2 separate regions of the Homo sapiens genome follow, and region 1 is linked to region 2. The links come from fine-mapping of genetic effects on gene expression. Tissue or cell type: pancreas. Region 2 holds a variant in brackets; the other region holds the start of a gene. All regions are shown on one strand. Distances are from middle to middle.

Region 1 (2,686 bases), 32 kb after region 2:
GGGGAAGTCGAGGTGGGTGGATCACTTGAGGTTGGGAGTTCGAGACCAGCTTGGCCAATATGGAGAAACCCCGTCTCTACTAAAAATACAAAAATTAGCTGAGTGCGGTGGTGCACCTATAATCCCATCTACTTGGGATGCTGAGGCAGGAGAATCGCTTGAACCCAGGAGGCAGAGGTTACAGTTACAGAGCCAAGATTGTACCATTGCACTCCAGCCTGGACAACAGAGCGAGACTCAGTCTCAAAAAAAAAAAATTCCTCCTACCTTGGCCTCCCAAAATATTGGGATTATAAGCTTGAGCCACTGTGCCCAGCTGAAGCTGCTCTTCTTAAGGCTCATTGAGGGGTAGGGCAGAATCCCTGTGCCTTTGGTTGGAATTACAGAAACCACTGCTCCCACTGCCCTCAGCTTCCCCAGACCCGGGAAGTGACCATTCAGCACTGGCACTGCATAGATTCCAGGGCATCACCCTTTACTTATTCTGGGGAAGGGAAAGCACATAGACCCGCCTCTCATTTATCCCTCACTGCAACCCAGTGAGACACACATTGAAGTAAAGTGATGTTCTCAAAGCCACATGATTAATTAGGAACCCAGGAATTGAACCTAGCTGTTTGACTCTAAAGGTCTTTCCACTGTGACCTTGCCCTCTCCTGCTGCCTTATTTTCACCACTCAGTTCTCTCTGCTCCATCTTTACTCAATGGTTGCTCCACCTGCCCATACGCAAACACTAGGAGGATGCTGCTGAAGGCCTGGAGCACCTTCACTGCAAACATAGTCAGTCAGCAGCAGCAGTAAGCCAGGCAACCAGTCATGAAACTTTCCCATCCAAGGTACTTCTGGGGGCTGGAGGAAACAATAAGGAGAGAGAGAGAGAATAAGAGAGAGAGAGAGCAACGTTTAGGCTTTAACGAGAATCTTGCCTAGTTGGCAATCTGCTGGATGAAATGTCAGAGATTTTTGCTAACCCACTCACCTTTGACAGCAATAGCTTCTGAGTATTGGGATCTCCAGAGAGAGGGGCAGTTGAAGCAGAGCACATTCAGTGTCTTTTTGGAGTCTCAAAAAAATTGCAAGGTGGGAAGTGCTGGCCCTCTCCTGCTCCCACTGAAATGAAGCTGGAAGAGAATTGCACACCCAGCTGGGCATCTCAGGAGACCTAGGCAAGTTCAGTCTTGAGTGACAAACTCAGTGGTCTTGTCACTTCAGCTCATGGCCTTCCTGAGGTCCCCCAGCATGAGTCTCCTCCACGAGAGACCTGACCAATGGTGACCCAGCCTCTGTTTGAGCGTCATCTACCAGCAGAGATGGGGACTCCTGGCCCCAAGGCTCCCAGCATAGCCTGACACTTTGAGCTATTCCAGTCCTTTCTTATTTTGAGATTAAATCTCCCTCCCTACAGCTCCCTTCCACAGTCAGGAGGAAAGTCCTGCTGAATGCAGGCCCTGAAGCAAGGGCCAGGGAAGCTTTTCCTCGTCACCCTCCCAAAGTCAAGACTTGGAAAGGCAGCTCTGAGCCCCTGGCTTGGCTGGCTGGCCGGAGCAGGCAGCCACTGTGCCTGCAGGGAATTCTGCACAGCCAGTTTCCTCATACCTGAGCCGTCTACAGCTGCACGCACCACTCCCGGCCTCAACACACTATTTAAGGCCAATACACGGGAGCTGGTTGTGAGTCACCAAGGAAGGCAGCGGCAGCTCCACTCAGCCAGTACCCAGATACGCTGGGAACCTTCCCCAGCCATGGCTTCCCTGGGGCAGATCCTCTTCTGGAGGTAGTATATACTCTTCTCTCTATCCTTATGGGTGAAGGGAACAGCAGTGAGGTCTTTTGGGGATGCTGAGCACTGCTGGGCTGTCCCATAGGACCCCACCTGTAATTTTATCTGATCCAGCATTGGGCCAGCGGGAGCCTGGCCAGACAAGAGCCTAACTGGATTTGACTTAACATCCCACCTCAGCTGCTCAAGGCACCTGTTCAGGGTTAGGGAGGTTTTTGGTTGGTGGCCTGCCATGGAGGGCTGGCGCTTGCTGGGCAGCTTGGACTGAGGGGAGTACGTGCCAAGCTGGGCATTCCCCTGAGATGTCAAGGCTGTGAGCACCATGGGGACACTGAGCAGGCTGGTGTGGGTTGCATGGTGGGATGGCAGGGAATCCATGACTGCGACAGTGGAGGGGATGCAGGAGGACCCTTTATGCAGCCCCCAGGGGGACGGAGGAGAATGTGCTTTCATTCTCTGTGGGTGTGATTTCTTGCTACTCTTGAGCAATTCACACCAACACCCCTCCCCAGGCCCCCCCAGCTCAAAGGTTGGGTCCCTAGTTTTCCTAGGAGCTCCTTGGAGAGGAGAACTTGCTGCTGCTGCTGCTGCTGCTGCTGCTGCTGAACTCCCCAGAGAGGAAGAAGGAAGCAAGTTCCCTCCCCTACCTTTTGCTTCTCCCCTGAGCTACATTCTAGTTGCCTCTTTTTCCCTCAGAACAGCATTTACCCTCCTGGAAGGAAAGAGATGGAAAGTGCAGGGTTTTCTTGAAATGATTGATTCAGTGTCAGTCACAACTCAGGACAGTGTTTAGGGAGGCTGATACTTGTTGGTTCTAGAGGTTGTTTGAAGGACCAGTCCTCCAATTTGTTTCTTTTTCCCACAAAAGGAAGAAAAGAAGAGAGGGAAGGAGAGAGGAAAGGAA
Region 2 (2,686 bases):
GCTTCTGTTTGCTCAAGTTACTAAGCTAGTTTCCAAACAAGTTAAATGCAAGCTTAAATGTGTCTCTAAAGTACCAAGGAGTCTGGGAGTGAAACCACTAGTTAAGTCATTCATTCCTCCTGAGGTTAAATAATAATAATAGGAGTGCTTTTCCTATTTATTCTTCCTTCATGCAGAGTTTTAATTTAAAATTTTGAGTCTGTTGTCTTTTATTTCCAGAATACCGCTTTATAAAATTGATTCTGACGTTGTTTTTTGTCCTGTATTATCTAAAGAGATACCATGTATTAATTCTTCCTGCAATTTTATAAACAAAACTCATTCAATATAGAACCCAATGGGCTACATCTGTAACCCACGGGAAGCATTCAGAATATTTGTGATGTATCAAATTTATGACAAAGATAAAACTAAAGCAATTTCATTGTGTTTGTAGGCAAAACGAGGGCATTTAGCCAGATGTTCACCAAGGGCTCTTCCAACCTTGTGAGTTTATGATTTTAGGGCAAATGAGAACAACAGCATAGGTTTCAGATTAATTGTGTGAGAAGTATATTGTCTTTGCACAGATGAATAGAACATAACGGCAACGAATATCAGGAAGAACATTTCCAAAATTATCTTAAATGCTTTATTATTGTACAGCTTCATTTTTTGGTTTTCTTACTTTGTAAGAAATGCCACTATTGTGGGGTTTCAAGCGTAATTCAGCAAATGGTATGTCTAATTGTAATTTCTTCCATATTCCCAGGACAGAAGCCACAGGACCAAGAGCCATTTTGCAAGGTCAATGGGACTAAGTGAGAAAAGGGGAGAACATTATCCAGTTGTTTATGTGTCCAGAAAGAGAGTTTTTCAAAAGTTCATCTCTTGGTAGGAATTCAAAATGCCTTTGCCCAAACCATTGAGACTATATGGTTAGGTTACCAGGCTAGATTCTAAGAGCCTGTTTAACCCTAAATATAAAAAGATTATTAAGGCAGACATGGTGGTTCATGCCTGTAGTCCCAGCTACTTGGGGAGGCTGAGGCAGGAGGATCGCTTGAGCTTGCTCCTGGGCTGCAGTGCTGTGTGCTGATCAGGTGTCTGCATTAAGTTCATCACCAATATAGTGACTTCCCGGGAATGGAAGACCACAAGGTTGCCTAAGGAGGGGTGAACTAGCTCAGTTTAAAAA[C/T]GGAGTAATTCAAAACTCCTGTGCTGATCAGTAGTGGAATCACACCTGTGAATAGCCATTGCACTCTTGCCTGGGCAACATAGCAAGACCCCACCTCAATAAATAAATAAGTAAATAGGATTCTTCAAAATTTTATTTTGATTTATTTAGCCTCATGTATAGCATCTTTTTCTTAGGAAAAAAAGTCCACACTCCCAGCTGTAATGCCATAGACATATCTCCCCCAGCCCAGCAGTAGAAACAGACTTGCAGTGTGAAGACAGTCTATGGGCAGGGATCGGTGTAGGTGATCAAATCCACTCAGTACACCCAAGCTTTATATCTGCCTAAGAGAAGGCAAAATTGTTGCAAACTGGAGAACAAGGAAAAGTTACCTTGAGGAGTGGAGTTCTGAGTGTCAACTCTCTCCCTTGCTATATTTAAATTATATTACACATTGAATATTCACAAAGGGCTGCTTGTCTTTGCATTCATTTTGAATCCTGTTTTGTGACCATGATTGGGGACGCAAAGGTTTTTTGTCCTTTGTCATACTTAGTAAATGGTTTTATGTTCCTTGATTATGATACATTTGTTTTTGAAATTCATTGCAATATCTAAATTGATGATTATCACAAATGAGTGTCAGTGCTTGGCTGTCAGTGTTTTTCTTTTAGCAGAAATGAATGAACAACATTTTTTGAATTACTATCTTGTGGGTTTCATTTTTAACTACTGGAAGAGAAAAAACACAGAATGAAAAACTATATTTTGAACCAAACATGAGCTCAATCATTCATTCAACAAACATTTATTGAGTACCAATCATTGGGCTAAGTGCTTTGGAGTATAAAAAGATGAATGAATTGCATTTCCTGAACTCATGGAACATGATTTGAGGAAATAAGACAGATAAATAAATAGCTCTACTAAAGGTAAAGTGAATAAATACCTTAAGAGATGACAGAGCTCTTCGGGCATCAAAGTGGGAGCGGAGACCCCATTCAGCTGAGAATTTTCCAGAGAAATTGGCACATAAACTGATTCTTGTTAGAGAGGGAGGATTTAAAAAGTGTTGAAACGGGACCCCGAGGGGAGAGAATGGAAAACCACTGATGGTTTTAGAAAGGAAAATGACATGGGTTAGCTGTGTGGTTTAGAAAGATCACAGATACTAGCTCGGTGGCTATTGTAATGATTCAAATAAAGCTGTGAGCCAGGTAAGAGACCGCAAATGTGAATGGAACACACAGATTTGAGAGATGCTTCAGATGCAGAATCAACAAACCTTGGGGATGCTTTGGAAACAAGAGGTGGAAACACAGATCTGGCAATCAGTAAAGGTAATTACTAAAATCTAAAAATGTGGTTCTTAAGCTTATCAAGCACAAGAATTACCTGGAGAGCTTATTTAATGGCAGGTTTCAGGCTCCACTCTGCCGAGAGAAGATTCAGTGTTGAGCCCAGGAATCTATTTTTAAGCAGCATCCCAGAAGATGTGGATGCAGGTGCTGGGCTGATCACACTTTG

Which allele goes with the higher level. Alleles are on the strand shown, and positions count from the first base shown. SD is a standard deviation of normalised expression in the study named.
For the expression in pancreas of the gene that starts at base 1,673 in region 1, allele C in region 2 goes with a lower level than allele T (small effect, 0.35 SD a copy in GTEx).

Evidence for each region. PIP is the estimated chance that this variant, and not a neighbour inherited with it, causes the effect.
Region 1: VTCN1 starts here. The variant in region 2 is fine-mapped to the expression of VTCN1 in pancreas (GTEx, PIP 0.94).

Annotation. Positions count from the first base shown.
Region 1 is chr1:117,209,914-117,212,599 of GRCh38, reverse strand. VTCN1 (V-set domain containing T cell activation inhibitor 1) reads left to right here and starts at 1,673. Exons shown (of 6, transcript NM_024626.4): 1 at 1,673-1,776. The coding sequence starts at 1,745.
Region 2 is chr1:117,241,801-117,244,486 of GRCh38, reverse strand. No RefSeq gene overlaps it. Among named protein-coding and RNA genes, the nearest start is that of VTCN1, 32 kb to the right of the region's middle. The variant C/T (reference allele first, on the strand shown) is at 1,178.